3 linked regions of the Homo sapiens genome follow. The protein of the gene in region 2 interacts with the protein of the main gene of each other region in a pairwise test. Each region holds a gene or a part of one and is shown on either strand. Other genes may lie near its edges.

Region 1 (7,000 bases), on a different chromosome or scaffold from region 2:
TAAAAATAGCAGCCTCATAAATCTGCACGGCATTGCATTCAAGCAAAGGACAATATGAGTAACTTAGAGAAATATCCACATTCAATGCACTTAATGAAATCCTGTTTTCTTTGGAGTTACATGAGGCAGCAGTACTAGCTAGTGTCTAATATTGCACTTTTATAGCATAAACACAGCTAAACATAGTGTTAAACACTGACAGCATCAGTACCTGTTCTAATTGCATCAGTGTTTACCTCTCAGTCTAGCATGCTGACTATAGTCCTATGCTTTAAAAGGTTATAATTATTTGACAGTTAAGGCATTAGAGGAAAAAGGTTTAAGGCTATCATAATATATATAAGCATTCACTTCTGTTCAGTTAGTGTATTGTTTTCTAGAATACACTGTTCAAATTGTCTCACTTCTGGGATATTAAAAACTATGGAATTTCTCTTATTAAAGTCCAAACCATCAATAATGAAAAAAGTACAATATAAAATAATACATATGAAGCCACAATATTCAATTACAGTTCAAACTAGAAATTACTAACTACATGTAGCTGCTTCATTTTTCGTTTTGCATTTTGGCCCCTAATTCATTATTTACAACTGATACCTGCTGAGAAAAAGATCCAAACTTTTAAACTTTGTATGTTTTGTGGAGGGTGCACAATTTCTTCTAATTTATCTTCAGGTGTTTTAAAATTTAATTTGTTTTTAATCATAAGATATCATCATGGCCAAGAGACTGGGAAAATAACAATTTTATTCTTTCTCCTAAGATTGTGATTTTATTATTCCAAGATCTTATGCTTGAATTACTTAGCAAGAAGGCATGATTATGCAGAAGACAGGGAAATGAAGAGAAAAGAGCGGGAATATACAAAAATGAAGCTTCCTTAACAGAGTTCATGGTGGAGATGGTAGACACTGGTGGAGTTTTTATCCAAGACTTAAAACTTAGGAAACACCTATGATGCCACTTTAACTGGAAGTAATGGAGACATCTGATTCCAAATTCACATTTTAAATGCCTATTTGCAATCAGCAAAGAGCCAGGTATGCTGCATGCTGCTTGCTGTAAGTTACGATTTGGCTTCACTAGCTCAAATTTTTTCACTCCACCAAAAGATAAGGCACAGGCCCGTTTGTCCAATCAAGTTTGCTGAAAATACTGCAGCCTGAGTGTAGACAAACTTCCCCTGAATTTGCTAGAAGTTTTCTTGTGTCTGGAGGTTTCAAGATCACCATACATCTTTCAAACACTGAAAAAAAAAAAAAAAAAAGTGAATAAAAGGAAATGTTATAGTCTCTAAATGTCATTCTCAGCAGCCACAAAAATGATTTCAAATTCCACAAGGACTTTGTGGAAAAAAAGCCTTAAGATGGTCCAAGTTATTATTTCACACAGACATAGTTGGCATTTACATGGCAAGGGCTTTGGGAGTACAGCACTAGCCAAGGAAGTTTCCATGGTTTACACAGTAGTTGGCGTTCTGCACCACTCCTACCCTTTGTAGTATCATGTGTTTAGTTTAACATGTATGGTTTCCGACTCCCTGCTCAGCTCAGCTCCTTTCTGGAGAGACTATTTCATTCATTCCTTAGAGGTTCAATATCATTACCAAAATAAACAAAACAATTTAGACAAAATTTTAAAGTTAAATTCTAGTATAAGAAATTCCAAATAATTTCTAAGACACTTAATAAGAAGCAATAAGGAGCCGGGCATGGTGGCTCATGCCTGTAATCCCAGCACTTTGGGAGGCTGAGGCAGGCAGATCACATGAAGTCAGGAGTCTGAGATCAGCCTGGCCAACATGGTGAAACCCCATCTCTACTAAAAATACAAAAATTAGCTGGGCGTAGTGGTGTGTGCCTATATTCCCAGCTATGTGGGAGGCTGAGGCAGGAGAATTGCTTTAACCTGGGAGGTGGAGGTTACAGTGAGCCAAGGTCATGCCATTGCACTCCAGCCTGGGCAACAGAGGGAGACTCTGTCTCAAAAAAAAAAAAAAAAAAAAAAAAAAAAAGCAATAAGGCATGACATAACAGCAAACATATGGGCTCTATATGCCTGTGACTAGTTGATGATTAGCACCTTTATATGGATCATGGATAAATTTATTTCATCCCCACATACAACCTTTTAGATTACCTTGTTATCCCCATTTTAGAGAAGGAAAAACTGAAGCACAGAATGATTAAGTTAGTAATGGGCAGATGCAGGATTTAAACTAATACAGATTGGTTCCACTATGTTATTTTACTTATATACCATACAACCTTAAAATAAGAACTTTTAGTAGGCATTATATATTGTTTTGAAACAGGGTCTAGCTCCATCACCCAGGATGGAGTATGGAGTGATATGATCCAATCATAGCTCACTGCAGTTTTTTTTTTTTTTTTTTTTTTTTTTTCAAAAAGAGATGGTGCCTTGCATTGTCACCCAGGCTGGAGTACAGTGGTGAGATCAGAGCTCGTTGCTGCCCCAAATTCCTGGGCTCAAGGTATCCTCCACCTCGGCCTCCTGAACAGCTGGGACTACAGGCACACCACTATATCCAGCTAATTTTCAAATTGTTTGTAAAGACAGATTCTCACCATCCTGACCAGTCTGGTCTCAAACTCCAGGCCTCGAGCAATCCTCCTGCCTTGACCTCTCAAAGTGCTGAGATTACAAGTGTGAGTCACAACACCTGGCCCTAGGCTAAATAAAAGAGATATATATATATTTTAGAGATGGGGTCTCCCTATGTCGTCCAGGCTAGTCTCAAACTCAGCCTCAAGTGTTCCTCTTGCCTGGCATTCTAAAGTACTGTAAAGTGCTGAGATTACATGTGTGAGCCACCACACATGGCCATTATGCATACTTTGACATGTAAATGAAAAACAGGAATGTTTTAGACTTCAGTCTTATTTCATATGGCCAGTATGAAATGTCTAATGGAGTTTTACTGCTTAACAATGAAACTGAAGACTCCTAACTGCTAGCAAAAAAAAAAAAAAAAGTCTCAGAAGCACATGAAGATTAATTTATTTCAAGATTAAATCTGCCTTAATAACATAGATTCTACAAATGGTACAAATCTAATATCAGGTATTTAAAAAACATGGAAATATTGGTTAGGATGCATCTTTTAAATGTGGTTTCCAAAGTGACCACAATTTGGCACTCAGTTTAAAATACCACATGCTGAAAGGCTTCTCCTTTGACACTAAATTCAGATAAGAAAATCAATGACCCAACACTATTGATCAGTATCTATTTTACCCCTCTTTTGGCAGTAGCACCTGAATTGAAAACAACTGCCCCATCACCTAATCTCAAGCCCCTAAGAGGCAGTTTTACCACTGAGCCAAACAAGGGGCCCAGACATGGCCAGTTAGAGCCCTGCATATCCCAGGTCATTGTGGTTTTAGGATGAACGTAAGCCAGGCCAGTGAAGGCCAAGTGTTGCTAGGGGTATCTCAGAGAGTGAGTTTGGATGAGCAAACCCTTGGATCCAGCTACATCAGTCAACCCTGGGACTGTCAGTTATTAGAGTCAGTGAGTACCAACTTCTTCATTCCTATCACATTTATACTAGGAAATAGCATCTTTGTAGATGCTGAAAATTAAGCCTTCATATTCTGATAAAATGTGGAAATGCCAGGAAAAGTTAAAGTTAAACGTTTAGCCTTCTCGAACCGTTTTTTAATGCCAGTGGAGTTTGACTGTGTAACAATGAAACTGAGGCCAGGAGCGATGGTTTATGCCTGTAATCCCAGCACTTTGGGAAGGTGAGGCGGGCAGATCATGAGGTCGAGATGGAGACCATCCTGGCCAACATGGTGAAACCCTGTCTCTACTAAAAATAATAAATAAGCTGGGAGTAGCGGTGTGTGCTTGTAGTCCCAGCTACTCGGGAGGCTGAGGCAGGAGAATCGCTTGAACCCGGGAGGTGGAGGTTGCAGTGAGCCGAGATTGCGCCACTGTACTTCAGCCTGGGGATAGAGCAAGACTCTGTCTCAACAACAACAACAACAACAAAAAGAAACTGCAGACTCCTAACTGCTAGCAAAAAAAAAAAAAAAACAATCAATCTCAGAAGGAGATAATGTTTCCTCTTCCCGTTTAGCTATAGCAAACAAAGTTGAGAATTACAACTGCAGACATTTACAAATCTGATTTCCCTTTCAAATAAGATCTGTGTTAAAACATGTTTTTATTTTGTAATACACTGTCATTAAAGTATTACATACAAAGAAGTCTTTAAAGATATCTGGATTTCACCACTGGTGCTATATGCTACAGAATGAACCTATAATCCCTTAAAAACCCTGCAATTCTACAGCCAGGCATGGTGGAGAACACCTATAATCTCAGCTACCAGGGAGGCTAAGGTAAAAGGCTCACTTGAAGGCTGGGCGTGGCGGCTCACACCTATAATCCCAGCACTTTGGGAGGCCGAGGCAGGCGGATCACGAGGTCAGGAGATTGAGACCATCCTGGCTAACATGGTGAAACCCCATCTCTACTAAAAATACAAAAAATTAGCTAGGCATGGTGGTGTGCGCCTGTAGTCCCAGCTACTCAGGAAACTATAAGTACTTCCTATGTGTTTTTACTGTTATTCTGGACTCAGATTATCTAAATGGAAAAAATAAGATCTTATAAAAAGTTTGTTCTTTTTAATCATCTTACACAAGAACTTGCAACATAAAGTTACAAAATGATCAAATACAGTTTTTATATTTTTTCATGTAATTAACTGGTAACCGTCCAGACAGAGGTAAATACTGTGTTATTTTTGCATAAAATTTCTCAGTAGGAATTTCTCATTATTTAGAAAGTTTATGTAATCTGAACTCTTTAGAACAGATCCTATGGAAGGCCTAGAAAACACACCTATCAAAAAAGCAAAGCCCTGTTGCTTAAGGCTGACAGTCCAATAACAAAAAAGGGAAAGATAACACTGATCTAAGTACTACACTCCAGCCTGGGTGACAGAGTGAGATTCCATCTCAGAAAAACACAAAAAAACCCTATGTCCCTATGATTATTATAATCATGACAGCAAAAGTTATGTATTAATATAAAACTTTAGTTTGTAAAACTTGTTTTCATTCATTAACTCTCGCTCTGTCGTCCAGGCTGGAGGGCAGTGGCACGATGACAGCTCACCGCAACCTCGACCTCCTGGGCTGAAGCCATCCTTCCACCTCAGCCTCCCGAGTAACTTGGACTACAGGCATGCATGACGACACCTGGCTATCTTTTAATTTTTTGTAGAGACGAGGTCTCACCACATTGCCCAGGCTATTCTTGAACTTCCAGGCTCAAGCAATCTTCCATGCACAGGCATAAGCTACCATGTACAAGCCAAAATATCATTAATAGATTTAAATTTGGGGGCTGACATTGCCTTTGAGACCTAACAGATACGAAACTTGGAACTTGGCCAGGCACAGTGGCTCATGCCGGTATCCCAGCCCTTTGGAAGGCTGTGGCAGAGAGACAGCTTGAACCCAGAAGTTCAAGACCAGACTGGGGCAACATAGTGAGACCTTGTCTCTATGGGGACAAAAAAAAGAAAAAAAAAAGAAAAAGAAAAAGAAGAAAGCAACTTGGAATGTAACAGTAACTGGAGAAAAACACCCTTTCTGGCGATCTGAGGAAGCATTTCTTCCAGCCCGACACCCAATCTCCTTCCCAGAAAGGCTTGTGGGCATCTTGAATGGTTAAATGAAGCATATCTCCACTGATTCAGTGGGATAGTCAACGTGTGTTGGCTGGGTTGATGGGACAAGGCAAGAGAAGACAGAATAGTGTGACTTCTTTACCAGACCTCGCTGTGGGTGTTAGCTTTCTTTACCTGATCCTATAGCCAGCCATGAGATCAATCGCTCAATTCTTTTTTTTTTTTTTTGAGATGGAGTCTTGCTCTGTCGCCCAGGCTGGAGTGCAGTGGCGTGATCTCAGCTCACTGCAACCTCCACCTCCCAGGTTCAAGCAATTCCCCTGCCTCAGCCTTCTGAGTAGCTGGGATTATAGGCACACACCACCACACCCAGCTAATTTTTTTCTATTTTTAGTAAAGACAGGGTTTCGCCACGTTGGCCAGACTGGTCTCGAACTCCTGACCTCAGATGATCCACCTGCTTCAGCCTACCAAAATGCTGGGATTACCGGCATGAGCAACCGCACCCGGCCCTCTTAACACACACACACACACACACACACACACACATACACACACACACACATTTTTTTTTGAGTCGGAGTCTTGCTCTGTTGCCCAGGCTGGAGTGCAGTGGCGCGATCTCGGCTCACTACAAGCTCTGCCTTCCGGGTTCATGCCATTCTCCTGCCCCAGCCTCCCGAGTAGCTGGGGCTACAGGCGCCCACCACCACACCCAGCTGATTTTTTGTATTTTTAGTAGAGACGGGGTTTCACCGTGTTAGCCAGGACGGTCTCGATCTCCTGACCTCGTGATCCGCCCGCCTCAGCCTCCCAAAGTGCTGGGATTACAGGCGTGAGCCACTACACCCGGCCCTCTTAACATATTTTTAAAAATACTGTTAGTTTCCTGTCACTGCTGTTACCATAAATTGGGTGGCATAAAATAAGAGGTATTCATTCTCTAACAATTCTGGAGGCCAGGAATGAGAAACTGTGTCAGTGCGGCTGTGCATCCTCTGGAGGCTCCAGGGAGCAGTCAGGTCCTTGCCTCTTCCAGCTGCTGGTAGCTGGGAACACTCCTGGGCTGTGTCAACAGCTCTCTCATCTCTGCCTCCCTCGTCACATTGCTGCCTCCTCTTCTGTATGTGTCTCTGTCTGATTTCCCTCTGCCTCTTTCTTACACGAGTGATTGTATCTAGGGACCACCCAGATAATTCATGATCTATTTTCCTCTCAAGAACCTCATTACAGCTTTTTCCATAGAAGGTAATAGTCACAGGTTCCAGGGATCAGGATGTGGACGTATCTCGGTAGCCACCATGCAGTCCACTGGAAGCACTTTGCCAT
Region 2 (4,291 bases):
CTCGTACTCCTGACCTCAAGTGACCCGCCCGCCTGGGCCTCCCAAAGTGCTGGGATTACAGGCGGGAGCCACCGCGCTTGGCCTGCAGATGCAATTTTTAAAATCATTGAGCTATACCCTTAAGATGCGTGCACTTCACTGTATGAAAGTTTATCTCAATAAAAAGAGAGAATAGCGTAGTGACCTAGAACTTTGGACAGCCTTGGTTCAAATCCCAGATTTGTCTCTTCTTAGCTGTGTGCAAATCACTTCTTCTCTCTGTGCACATTTAATGCACACTTAGAAGTGGGCAGAGCACATAGCAGGCACTCAGTGAATCACTGTCATCACCATCATCATCGTCATTGTGTCCCCTGGGTCCTACTCCTATAGGAGAGGCTCCCAGTCACCATCCCACGTCTGCTTCCCTCCCTCTCCCCTGTTCTGATTCCACAATGCCATCGCCTGGTGAATTCAAGCTGCTCTGACTTTCGTGGAGTTGAAAACTCCGTGATTAGATGGCTCTGAGATTCCGTGACTTCCAAGCCAGTGCCAGGCTAAGTTCCTGCAGTTTCGAGAGTCGCCTGGCAGCGCGCCCCAACAGAGGGGATGCTGTCCCAGCCGCAGTCCCCGTCTGGAAAGCAGGCACAACACACACACCGCTTCTCTCTCCCCACTGATATATTTGATAATTGTCCAGAACCAGAGATGGCATCAGCCGGGGGGCTGAAGGGGAGTAAAAAAGAGCCCAGGGAGGTGGCTGGGGCGGGAGGAATGGATAGAGGGGTGAGGAGAGGGAGAGAAACTGACACAGAAAAGAGAGAGGAGAGAGGTTTGGGGCAGGGGAGAGAAGCCAGCCAGAGTGGGGGCGGCAGGAGATAGTGGAGGGGGTGGGGGCCAAGGTGGGGCCACAGGAAGAGAGGGCTCCTCCCCCCAGAATACAAAATTGGGGGGACTGACAGGGGCGGTCCTGGGCCTGGGGGACGGGGAAGAGATGGGCGATGTGGTGGGGCTGAGGTCAGTAGTAGGTTTCCTTCTCCACCCAACCTGGAGAGACAAAGAAGGAAAGAAAGAGACAGAGTAAGAGATGGAGAGAGACAGGCAAGGCGAGCCGCCCAGCAGAGAGAGGGACAGAGAGGGAGAGAGACAAGGAAACCACACAGACAGAGACCCGTGAGAAGACAGAGTGGGTGCCCGGAGAGATGGGAAGAGAGAGAAGAGTGGGAACCAGGTGGCAGAGCCATCCAGCAGGGCGAGGGGAGCCTGGGACCAGCTGCCTGAGACCCTGCTGCCCCCCGCCCCCCTCGGCTGCCTTGCCGAGCTCCCTCACCCCCTGGGTTCCTGCGCAGGATGAGTTTGCGGATTTCGTCGTAGACGAAGATGAGGAAACTGTAGGGGAAGGCACAGAACCACCAGCTGGGCCTGCAGAGGGGAGAGCAGGAGGGCTTGAGTGCGGGGCCCTAACGAGAGGCAGAGTTTCAGGGGACTGGAGGGGACGCAGAGGGGCAGTCTCCCAGGATCCTTCGTGCTCACAGGTGGAGGGTGCCCTGGGCGGGGCTGGGGCCTGGGGTCTTCGGAGTAATCCGTGGTGGGAGCAGCCTATGGGGGAGGCTCGGGGGCATCAGAATGGGGACTGCAGTGGGGACACCAGGGGAGGTGGGGCCTGAGGTTCAGGCTGAGTCTAAGGGAAGGCTCCATGGCAGGCGCTGGTGTGGGCAGGGCTGGGGGCAGCGGGGCACTCACTTGAGAGGGTACATGCGCAGGGCCACGTCCATGCCGGGGCAGTAGGACAGGAAGGCAGCCAGGGCCGTCTCCTCAAACAGCCCGAAGATCAGGATCTTGTTCCTGGAGGCACAGAAGGGCAGGGCTGGGCCCAGAGAGCACCCACCCTGCACCTGCCACCCCGCAGAGACAGGGGGAGGCACAGTGCAGACACCCAGAGACAGCAGCACAGACACAGAGACAGAGAGGCAGAGACATAGGGAGAGACAGAGATGGGGAGACATGCCCCGACAGAGAGAGACAAAGATAGAGGCAGAGCGATGGTGACACAGAAAGAGACAAAAGACAGGGACAGACACAGAGACAGGGACAGACACAGAGACAGACAGGGACAGACAGAGAGACAGACACAGGGACAGACACAGAGACAGGGACAGAAACAGACACAGAGACAGGGACAGACACAGAGAGGCACTGGTATAAAAAGAAAAGGCCAGGGGCACCTCCACCACACACACAGAGGCTGAGAGAGAATCTAGGACACACAGGACCCCTTGAGAGAAAATCAGTGCAGTGGCAAAACCCAAAATGGGCTGGGCATGGTGGCTCACACCTGTAATCCTAGCACTCTGGGAGGCTGAGGCAGGAAGATTGCCTGAGCTCAGGAGTTTGAGACCAGCCTGGGCAACATGGTGAAACTCTACTAAAAATACGAAAAATTAGCCGAGCCTGGTGGTGCGTACCTGTAATCCCAGCTACTTGGGAGGCTGAGGCATGAGAATCGCTTGAACCCGGGAGGCGGAGGTTGCAGTGAGCCAAGATTGTGCCACTGCACTCCAGCCTGGGCAACAGAGCAAGACTCTGTCTCTAAATAAATAAATAAAAATTAGCCATATATGATGGTGCACACCTGTAGTCTCAGCTACTCAGGAGGCTGAGGTGGGTGGGTCACTTGAGCCCAGGAGGTCGAGGCTGCAGTGAGCTATGATTACACCACTGAACTCCAGTCTGGGTGACAGAGTGAGACCCTGCCTCAACAAAACAACAAAAAACCAAAGCAAGGACACAAGAGGAAGTACACAGACAGACAGACACTCGGACAGGACAGATGGCTGTCCAGTCACCATGTGCCCCCGGCCCTCACTTCATGCCCTGCTGGAAGACCGAGTTCCTCCGGGTCTTGCAGATGATCAGATCGGCCCACTGGACGACAACGATGCTCACAAAGAAGGCCGTGTGGCAGGTGAACTCCACCACCTTCCTCTGCTCGTATGTCTGCAGGAGCGGTGACCAGGGCACGGGACGTCAGTTAGTGGCACTGCAGCCCTAGCCGCCACCCCGACGTTCCGGTGCTCTTTGCCCCGCCCCATCCTGCATGGGGTCCTCAGGGCCTCAGGTGTGTCTTCCTTCTGCGGGCTCATAGTCCCGAGGGAGGAGTCAGGAGACGTACAAGGAAGAAGAAAGGTTAATGGTGATCTCACCATCCACCAGGGGCCAGGGAGGAGGATAAGGACCCTGTGGGCCTCCCAAGGAGGACAGACAGCAACTGGGCTTTGAAGGGACAGACAGAGGTGGGGAAGAAGGCCTGGCAGGGCAGAGAGCTCCAGCAGTGGGACACAAGGCTCCAGATGGGCTGGGCCAAGGGCATCCAGGAAGCCCCAGGTGCCCAGCAAAGGCCTTGATGCTGCCATGGGAGACTGAGGGGGCCATCGTAGGAAGTGGCCATGCATGGCTGGAACAGCTCACCCCGGGGATCTTACGGTGGGCAGAGACACAGCACCCTGCCCTACTCACCCACTGCTGCCCGTAACTGTCTTCCAGGTCATTGACGGTGCGGTCATCCCAGTTCAGCCGGATGCCCACCAGGTTGCCGGGCAAGAAGCCATTTTCTGCCAGGATCACAAAGTAAGAGAAGAAGCCACCGAGAGCCTGGATCATTCCTGGAAGGAGGAGAGAGGAAGCCGAGGAGAGGCTCAGATTGGGGCCAGCAGCCAACCCAGGGCACCTCAGAGGGCCCGGAGGCCTCCTTGGAGAGGGGAGTATGCCCTCCTGGCCCTGTTATCTGGACATTGGTTCCCAGAGGGTGACCTGAGGTCTCACTTGGTGGTGAGGCCCTGAGATGGGTGGGCCACCTGGGACAGGGGCTTTGGAGAGAGGGCTCTCCCAGAGGGATAACCTGGAGCCCCTCTCTCACCTGACCTAGGCCACCTAAACATCATGAATTCTTGGGGGATCCCCAGCTTGAGCTCCCTACGCAGGAATGACCTCCCTGGGCCTGGAACCACTGCCATGAAGTCTCTGCTTGCTGGGACAGCCCCCAAGGGTGGCTGCTCCACTCCTCTGGGGATCCGCACACATCAACAGCAGAGAGGAGGAGGTGGAGAAGGATGGGGTGCAGACCCCCCCCACAGATAGCTCACTGGTTGGTCCTGCCCACGTCTGCTCCCCTGAGTCAATGCCAGGGTCCCAAGCACCCACGGTGGGCCAGGCACTGCTCTAGGCCCGGCACTGGGTGGTAAGGAGATGGAGTCCCCGGTGCCTCACCAATCTGCCCGTAGGCCATGCTGATGAGTCTCTCATTGACCAATTT
Region 3 (7,000 bases), on a different chromosome or scaffold from region 2:
AACACCCAGCAGCCAGCAGATGCTCAGGAAGGATTTGATAAGCTGAGCTGAGTGCTCGTCCCTCCAGCCGCCATTCTTGATGAGCCTCCGCTTCTTCCTGCCAGCCTGGCCTGGGGTTCAGAGCTTGGCCTCTGGGGCTGGACAGTCTAGAACTGAGCTCTGCCTCTGTCAGGGCGTCACTACCCTGTGACTTTGGGCAGTCTCACCTTTTGCCCCTTCAGTTTCCTTATCTGTGAAACACGGATAACAAGATTAGTTAACCTCATAGAGTGTGAGGAGTAAATGAGGTAATAACGGAAAGTCCTTAGAGCAGGGCCTGGCACATAGTAAGCGCTCAAGAAACGCCAGCATTCCCTACCTTGTTGCCATCCGCTTTCTCCTCTCCTGTCCATCCTCATGACCCCCAGATGCCGGTCTTTCTGAGGCACCTCCCCGCCCCCACCGTTTTCATCTCAGCAGCTGTGGTTTGATGGGAAAAGCATGAGACTCGGACTAATGACCATGAATAATTAGCAATTGCGACTTCTCTGGGCCTCATTTTTCTAATTCTTAAAATAGGGATAATACTACTTCGTGGAACTAGTGGGAAAATGAAATGAAAAACTAGAGCTGAAAGCCCTTTATACATTTAAATTATGTTGAGAGTAGAAGTTCCATCCTTCTCATGCTTTCTCTGACTCTCCATAGCTGACCATATAAGTTAAAACCCGACATTCAGTCAGGCTGCAGTCCACCTCCACTCCTCTCTCCTGGCACGGATCCTTGGTGCCCACATCAGAGATTCTGATTCTGTGATTTGGAGTGGGGCTTAGGTATTGATGTTTTATTTATTTATTTATTTATTTTTGATGGAGCATCGCTCTGTCGCCCAGGCTGGAGTACAGTGGCGCAATCTGGGCTCACTGCAACCTCTGCCTCCCAGGTTCAAACGATTGTCTTGCCTTAGCCTCCCAAGTAGCTGGGACTACAGGTGCGTTCCACCACGCCCAGCTCAGTTTTTATATTTTTAGTAGAGATGGGGTTTCACCATGTTGGCCAGGATGGTCTCAAACTCCAGACCTCATGATCCACCAGGCTCAGCCTCCCAAAGTGCTGGGATTACAGGCGTGAGCCACCGTGCCCAGCCACGTATCAGTATTTTTAAAAATTCAGCAATTTTGGTGTGCAGCCAAGGTTGAGAACCACCACTATAGCTCTTGACCTGCACTTGCTCTCTTAAATCTTACCAAGGGTAGCCCTGCCCGATCCAGAAACCCTTCCCTTCTGTATTGGTCTGTGTACTTTTGTTAGGTTTCTGTGATTGTAGAGTCATACATAGTGATAGTTTTCAGATGTATATTGCTGCTTTATTTTCATAGTAAAGTATGAATTTTGATGAACAAGGAACTGTTTTAATGTTTGTTGCAAGCCTACAGTGTCCATGTGCTGTCCATGAGCTCTGCTGTGTGCCGGGAAGGGGGACAGAAATGGCCATGGCCTCCAGGAGCTTATTGTTTAGAGGAAGCAACAGACGTGTAAATGATCGAGTACAGTGAAATGTTGGAACTGCTGACAGTTATCTACGGGAACAGTGTGGGCAAAGAAAAGGCAGTAGTCCTTTCTACCTGAAAGGTGTGTTTGGGACAGCATGAGGCCATGAAATGCTTGAGAGATTGCTTAGGTGAGCCCTGCAGACAAGCAGGCACTGGGCAAGCCTGGCATCCCTGGCATGCTGGGGCAAGAAAGCAGTCAGATTGTCTGCATAGGGATGCGTGGTAAAGAATGCCCACCGGCCCATCCTCCACCGTATGCCTAACATTATTTTCTTGTAATGAACTAGAATAAATGTTTGTGGTTACATGGAATTGGAATGCTGTTGTATAAAAACATTTACAAATAAGAATCCCTCATCCTGCTTACTGAGAATTTAGTATTTAGTAGGTTAGTCTTTTTAAAATAGTTAACCGCAGCCTGCATTATGAGGATGGCATGCCAGCATAAGGAAGTTAGCATCATCTTAGAGTGACCACAGAAGCTGCATCTGTCCGTGTGACTGGACACTGTATGTGTCCAGATCTCTGCAGGGAAGAGTCATGTCATACTTTAACGGAAGAGTCATGTCCTACTTTAGAGTATGACTGAGTCGCAGTCAGAGGGAAGTGTTTCCTCTGTGGCGTAGAACATGGACTGTTTGGAGGGCACTGGAGAGAACCAAAAGAGTGACAAGTTTTGAGCGCTTGTCATTTGAGAAACGGGAAAGAAAATGCGGCGTAATTACCTGTCTTTGGGGAGAGGAGTAGGATTGCTTTTGTTCCTCCAAGTAGGCAGAAACAGAAACACTGGGCAGCTGGTACAGAGAGACGGGTTTTGAGAGGCAGTACTCTGCCAGCAGCGCCGTCTAGCCAGCTGTCTGCCCGAGTCCGGGGGTCCTAGTGCCTTCTGCAGGATTACCCTATAGGAGGCATTTCCAGGGTGCTGATGTGGACTCATGCCAGAGGTGACAGTGTCAGCCATCCATGGTGGAAACACAAAAATAAGGACACTTAGTGAGCTTGGCCCAAGCTATTACATTGTCATCTCTGAGGTTATATTTGCCACACCTTTACCGTTGAATGTCCTTTTATCAAAATAGCAGTCATTGTTTAAGTGATATCTCTATGTTAAACCTTACATTTTTTTCTTTTTAATTTTATCGCTGTGTGAAATCCTAAAGTCTTGAAACTCCTGAGCTAGCTGACTTTTAATATCTGGGATCTCTTTTATCTCTAAATGATTACGATTCCTGACTTTTTTTTGATATAAACACTCAACTGCCGTTAAGAGTGCTCATGATAGGGAATAGATGCTGGGTTTGTTCATGTTTAAATACTGAGGTTCAAGTACCTGTCAGAAGGAGTTTATTATAAAAATTGCTGAAGGCAGATGTTAATTCTTCTCTACAGCATAGTTTTTCTGTTAAAAATTCTAACTCCATTTGAAGGTAAAATGGTATTAGAAAGGATCAAAGTTCCTTTACTGCTAATATCGTTAACATAGGTTTAACAGTCCAAACTTTGGAGTCACTAGGCAAACCTGAATTAGTGAATTCAGTCCCCATTTTATGACCCAAGGCTGGTTACTAACCTCTCAGAGCCTCTGTTGACTTCTCTGTAAAACATGGATAATACTGCTTTACAAGACATTGTGATGACTAAGTTAAATACTCTTCGCAACGGTTTAGCAAAGAGCTTCATTCATAGTAAGTTCTTAATAAACGAGAGCTATTATTACCACTTGCTAGAATTTTTTTTTTTTTTTTGAGATGGAGTCTTGCTCTGTTGCCCAGGCTGGAGTGCAGTGGCATGATCTCGGCTCACTGCAAGCTCCACCTCCTGGGTTCACGCCATTCTCCTGCCTCAGCCTCCTGAGTAGCTGGGACTACAGGCGCCCGCCACCATGCCTGGCTAATTTTTTTTTTTTTTTTGTATTTTTAGTAGAGACGGGGTTTCACCATGTTAGCCAGGATGGTCTCGATCTCCTGATCTCATGATCCACCTGCCTCAGCCTCCCAAAGTGCTGGGATTACGGGCATGAGCCACTGCGCCCGGCCTACTTGCTAGAATTTTTATGGACACAACTATAGGTGATTTCTAAGACATGGTCTGTGCACCTAAGATATCCTTAGTACTAGAATATATCAAAAGTTTACCAAAAATAAAAATATTGACTAAAGCTCTAATAATCTGGGCCTGAGTTTGCTGTGTAACCTGGAATAAATTATCTGAATGTACTATTGGATTTTTTGCATGGCCCATTCCATTAGTTTTATTTAATCTGCTTTTATATTATTTATCAGAAATATGCATTCCTGTATCAGGGAGAAAGATTGTTTTCATTATCTATTTCTAGTACAAAATAGGTAAAGAACACTTTAAAGATTTTTCTACCACTTAAAATATTAAATGGAAGATCATTTGATTATATTTCTTTTGAAAACAAGTAATCGTTATGCCATTTTTAAAAAGGAAAAATGCAACATTGCTAAGAATTAACCCAGAATGCATTTCATTCAGAATACATAGTTTACAAAATAACCGAAAAAAGAGGGCTCTAATTTAACAGTTCAGCAGATGGTGCTATTCCGATTATTATGCAACTGATCAGCTTTTCTGAAATTTGCAAGTGACTAATTTAAAACACTGGTGTATTATTTTTAACTCTCCAGTATGTGTTTCCTGAGTGGCAAAGTTACCGTCATATTGAATATTCAAAACACACTATTTCATTCATAGAAACTTGTGTTTCCTCAAGGTTTCCCCACAAGTAGAGGAGTTTAGATTCACAGCAACCAGTATTAATTTCTGGCCCCACCATGTAACTGAGACAACTCCTTTATTTATCTGAATACAATGGTAATTGTACAGTTTATCTGAATACAGTGTTAGTTGTATTATTATCTCAAGAAAATAGGTGGTAAAGGCCTAATTTGAAGTTCAGCAAATGTATATTGCTGTTGATATTTGTTTTATTGTTATTAGGAGCCATTCTATTAAAAGCTGGACATTTTCCAAAGTTTTGTCAAACTCTTTCTCTTTGGTTGTTGAAAATAAACTTGAGTTTTTTCGAAGCCACATTTATCATATTCTTAAATGTAATGTCTAACTCTGTTTCCCAGAATTTGATAGACATGATGAATCTTTCATGTTATATAGTCCGCAGATGGCATTTTTAATACTTGTGAATTCTAGTTTTCATTCACAAGTCAATATCAAACTCATCTTCAAATCTTAACCATGAATCTTAATCTTTGCATTTTATTTAAAATGCAATTTGCAAATTAAAAAAAGCCCCGTGTGTTAGTTGGCTAGTATTCATTCTCGTTTTTCACTTATCTTGTGCATGACACCTGCTCATTTTTACCGCTGGGTATATTACCTCATTTCAGTAGGTTTTCCTTTTTTTTCTTTTTCTTTTTTTTGCCACAGAACACTGTACAAAATTAAAATGAGGAAAATAAAGGTTGAGACTATTAACTTAATTACAGCAATGGAAGATTTTCCAAACCTAATTCGAAACATTAGCAATTAGCTTTTTAAATATCTGAGGCATTTGCAGTTTTAATTTCGCTGTACTTTAGGTAATTTAATATTGATTTCCTGTTGATTAGTACATAGAAATCCATCTGATGATCTCCGTTTCAGTGTTATTCTTCGCAAAGCCTTGCTAGTTTCAGAAATTAGGAACACAATGGCCCTGCACCTGAGAGGCTGCTGTGATTCTCCTGATTTGCCCTTTTGCACAAAGGTAAAATTGAGAAACCTGTCAGAAAGAACCAAGTGTACTTGCCAGAGGAAGTACTTTTTGGAAATGTCTTCCCTTCTTTATGAACAGAAGTATGTTTTTTAGAAAGAAACAATACTGAAATAAGGACGTATGGTGCTTTTGTTTGTTTTAAGTGATGTTTTAAATACATGGCCCAAATAAAATACATCAAGGCCTATTTAAAGTCCAGGCTTGGCGACCACCAAAGCAGCCTCCACAGGGTGCTGTTAAGAGGGAAGCACTGCATAGGGCCTGCCTGAACTAGGACACAGCCAAGGGCTCACATGGAGGACGGGGTGGAGACACATCTCGTGTACAGCAGGTGGCCAGGCACTCTGGCTGCTCTTCACGCTCTTGCCCATGGCTTCTTTTGAGTTGTGTGTAGCTCATCTTCATCTGGAATTTGAATTGGAACCTGGCTAAATGTGTCAGTTTTCCTTTTGAATTTATATAATTTAAAAAACCAAAAACTTTCATTATTGGTGTGTTTTTCTTTTCCTCTTTTTGCAGGCAGGTAACTTGCAGACTCACTTACGACGGCATTCTGGTGAAAAACCATACATCTGCGAGATCTGTGGAAAGAGGTCAGTGCTGGGCGTGTTCTTCCGTGTGGAAGGGAGCATGTCTAGTCTCAGTGTCTTTGGTAGTCAGTGTCTTCTGAAGTGGTGGCTCACAGATGAGCCACAGGTGGGCTCACCCTGCCACTGCAGAACACAGGTAAATTCAAACCTTCTGGCTTTGCATGTGACACACGAGAGAATAATAAAAAGAAAAGTTAATTCAAAGAAAGAAAAGCTGGGACAGGAGTCCCAAAAAGGAAATGGGGTTTTAAATGCAACAAAATTATTTTATACTAATATTTTCATTCATTCTAAAAATGTCTCTGAAAATATAATAGATTAATGCCCCCAAGGAGGTGACTGTCTAGTAGGGGAAATGGGACTTGGCAGCTGAGTGACTAGATTTCAGGAGAGAAGGAGGTGGTGGAAGGTGCCACAAGCCGTGGGTCTGTAACAGCCTGTGAGAGCTCCACCCCAGGGAGGAGGAAACTAAGTCTTGATGGGTGGGTAGGATTTTGACCTGGCAAAAGAGAATCTGACTCTTGACGTGGAATAAAGTGTGTGGCAGCTCGATTCCTCTGCAGCGTGGTATAAATGAGGAGCTCTTCCCCTGCTGTGTGTGCAGGCTGGCACCCTCGACCCTCCTTCCTGTCCTTGGGCTGTACGTCAATCAGGCCACGTACTCCATCATCTGGTGGTTGTGCCAGGACAACAGGCATCAGCCAGGACTATGCCAGTCACGAAGCTCTGTACGCACCTTGGTTACGTAGCTTTTATATTCATTTATTTAATCATTCATTGATTCAACATTTTTTAGACACCTGCTGTATGCCAAGTGCTATATGGGTCCATAAAAATAAACAGTACAGAGTCTCTGCCTGTCACAGATTCATACCGAAGTGCCTTGAGGCAAGAGATAGTCACGGGGTCAGTTAGAAGTCAGTGTCCTCATATTCAGTCTCAGCACATGCTGGGGAAAGCCGAGGAGGAAGCGACTCTCGATTCAGTTTCAGGAAAACCATTTCTCTGCCAATGGTAGAAAACAAACAAAAGCTGCGGCGGGCAGCGCATCTCCCTTTCTGCTGTAGCTACCTGAACGCTGAAAGTCAAGTTCAGGGCCCAGTGTCATCTGCCGCTCCTTCCAGATGCCTGGGAGCATA

The links. The genes of interacting proteins can lie anywhere in the genome.
Region 1: the proteins of ATP1A3 (region 2) and ESRP1 interact in binary tests that used the Homo sapiens proteins (3 or more experiments, as listed by UniProt).
Region 3: the proteins of ATP1A3 (region 2) and ZBTB49 interact in binary tests that used the Homo sapiens proteins (3 or more experiments, as listed by UniProt).

What each region holds. Positions count from the first base shown.
Region 1 is NC_000008.11:94,700,174-94,707,173, reverse strand, and holds part of ESRP1 (epithelial splicing regulatory protein 1), read right to left. Parts: intron 1,250-7,000; coding exon of another isoform or gene 1,229-1,249; 3' UTR 1-1,228. UniProt on the Homo sapiens protein: mRNA splicing factor that regulates the formation of epithelial cell-specific isoforms. Specifically regulates the expression of FGFR2-IIIb, an epithelial cell-specific isoform of FGFR2.
Region 2 is NC_000019.10:41,965,940-41,970,230, forward strand, and holds the end of ATP1A3 (sodium/potassium-transporting ATPase subunit alpha-3), read right to left. Parts: coding exon 4,246-4,291; intron 3,642-4,245; coding exon 3,496-3,641; intron 2,977-3,495; coding exon 2,846-2,976; intron 1,825-2,845; coding exon 1,723-1,824; intron 1,402-1,722; coding exon 1,310-1,401; intron 1,027-1,309; coding exon 998-1,026; 3' UTR 643-997; downstream 1-642. UniProt on the Homo sapiens protein: This is the catalytic component of the active enzyme, which catalyzes the hydrolysis of ATP coupled with the exchange of sodium and potassium ions across the plasma membrane.
Region 3 is NC_000004.12:4,307,251-4,314,250, forward strand, and holds part of ZBTB49 (zinc finger and BTB domain-containing protein 49), read left to right. Parts: intron 1-5,790; coding exon 5,791-5,864; intron 5,865-7,000. UniProt on the Homo sapiens protein: Transcription factor. Inhibits cell proliferation by activating either CDKN1A/p21 transcription or RB1 transcription.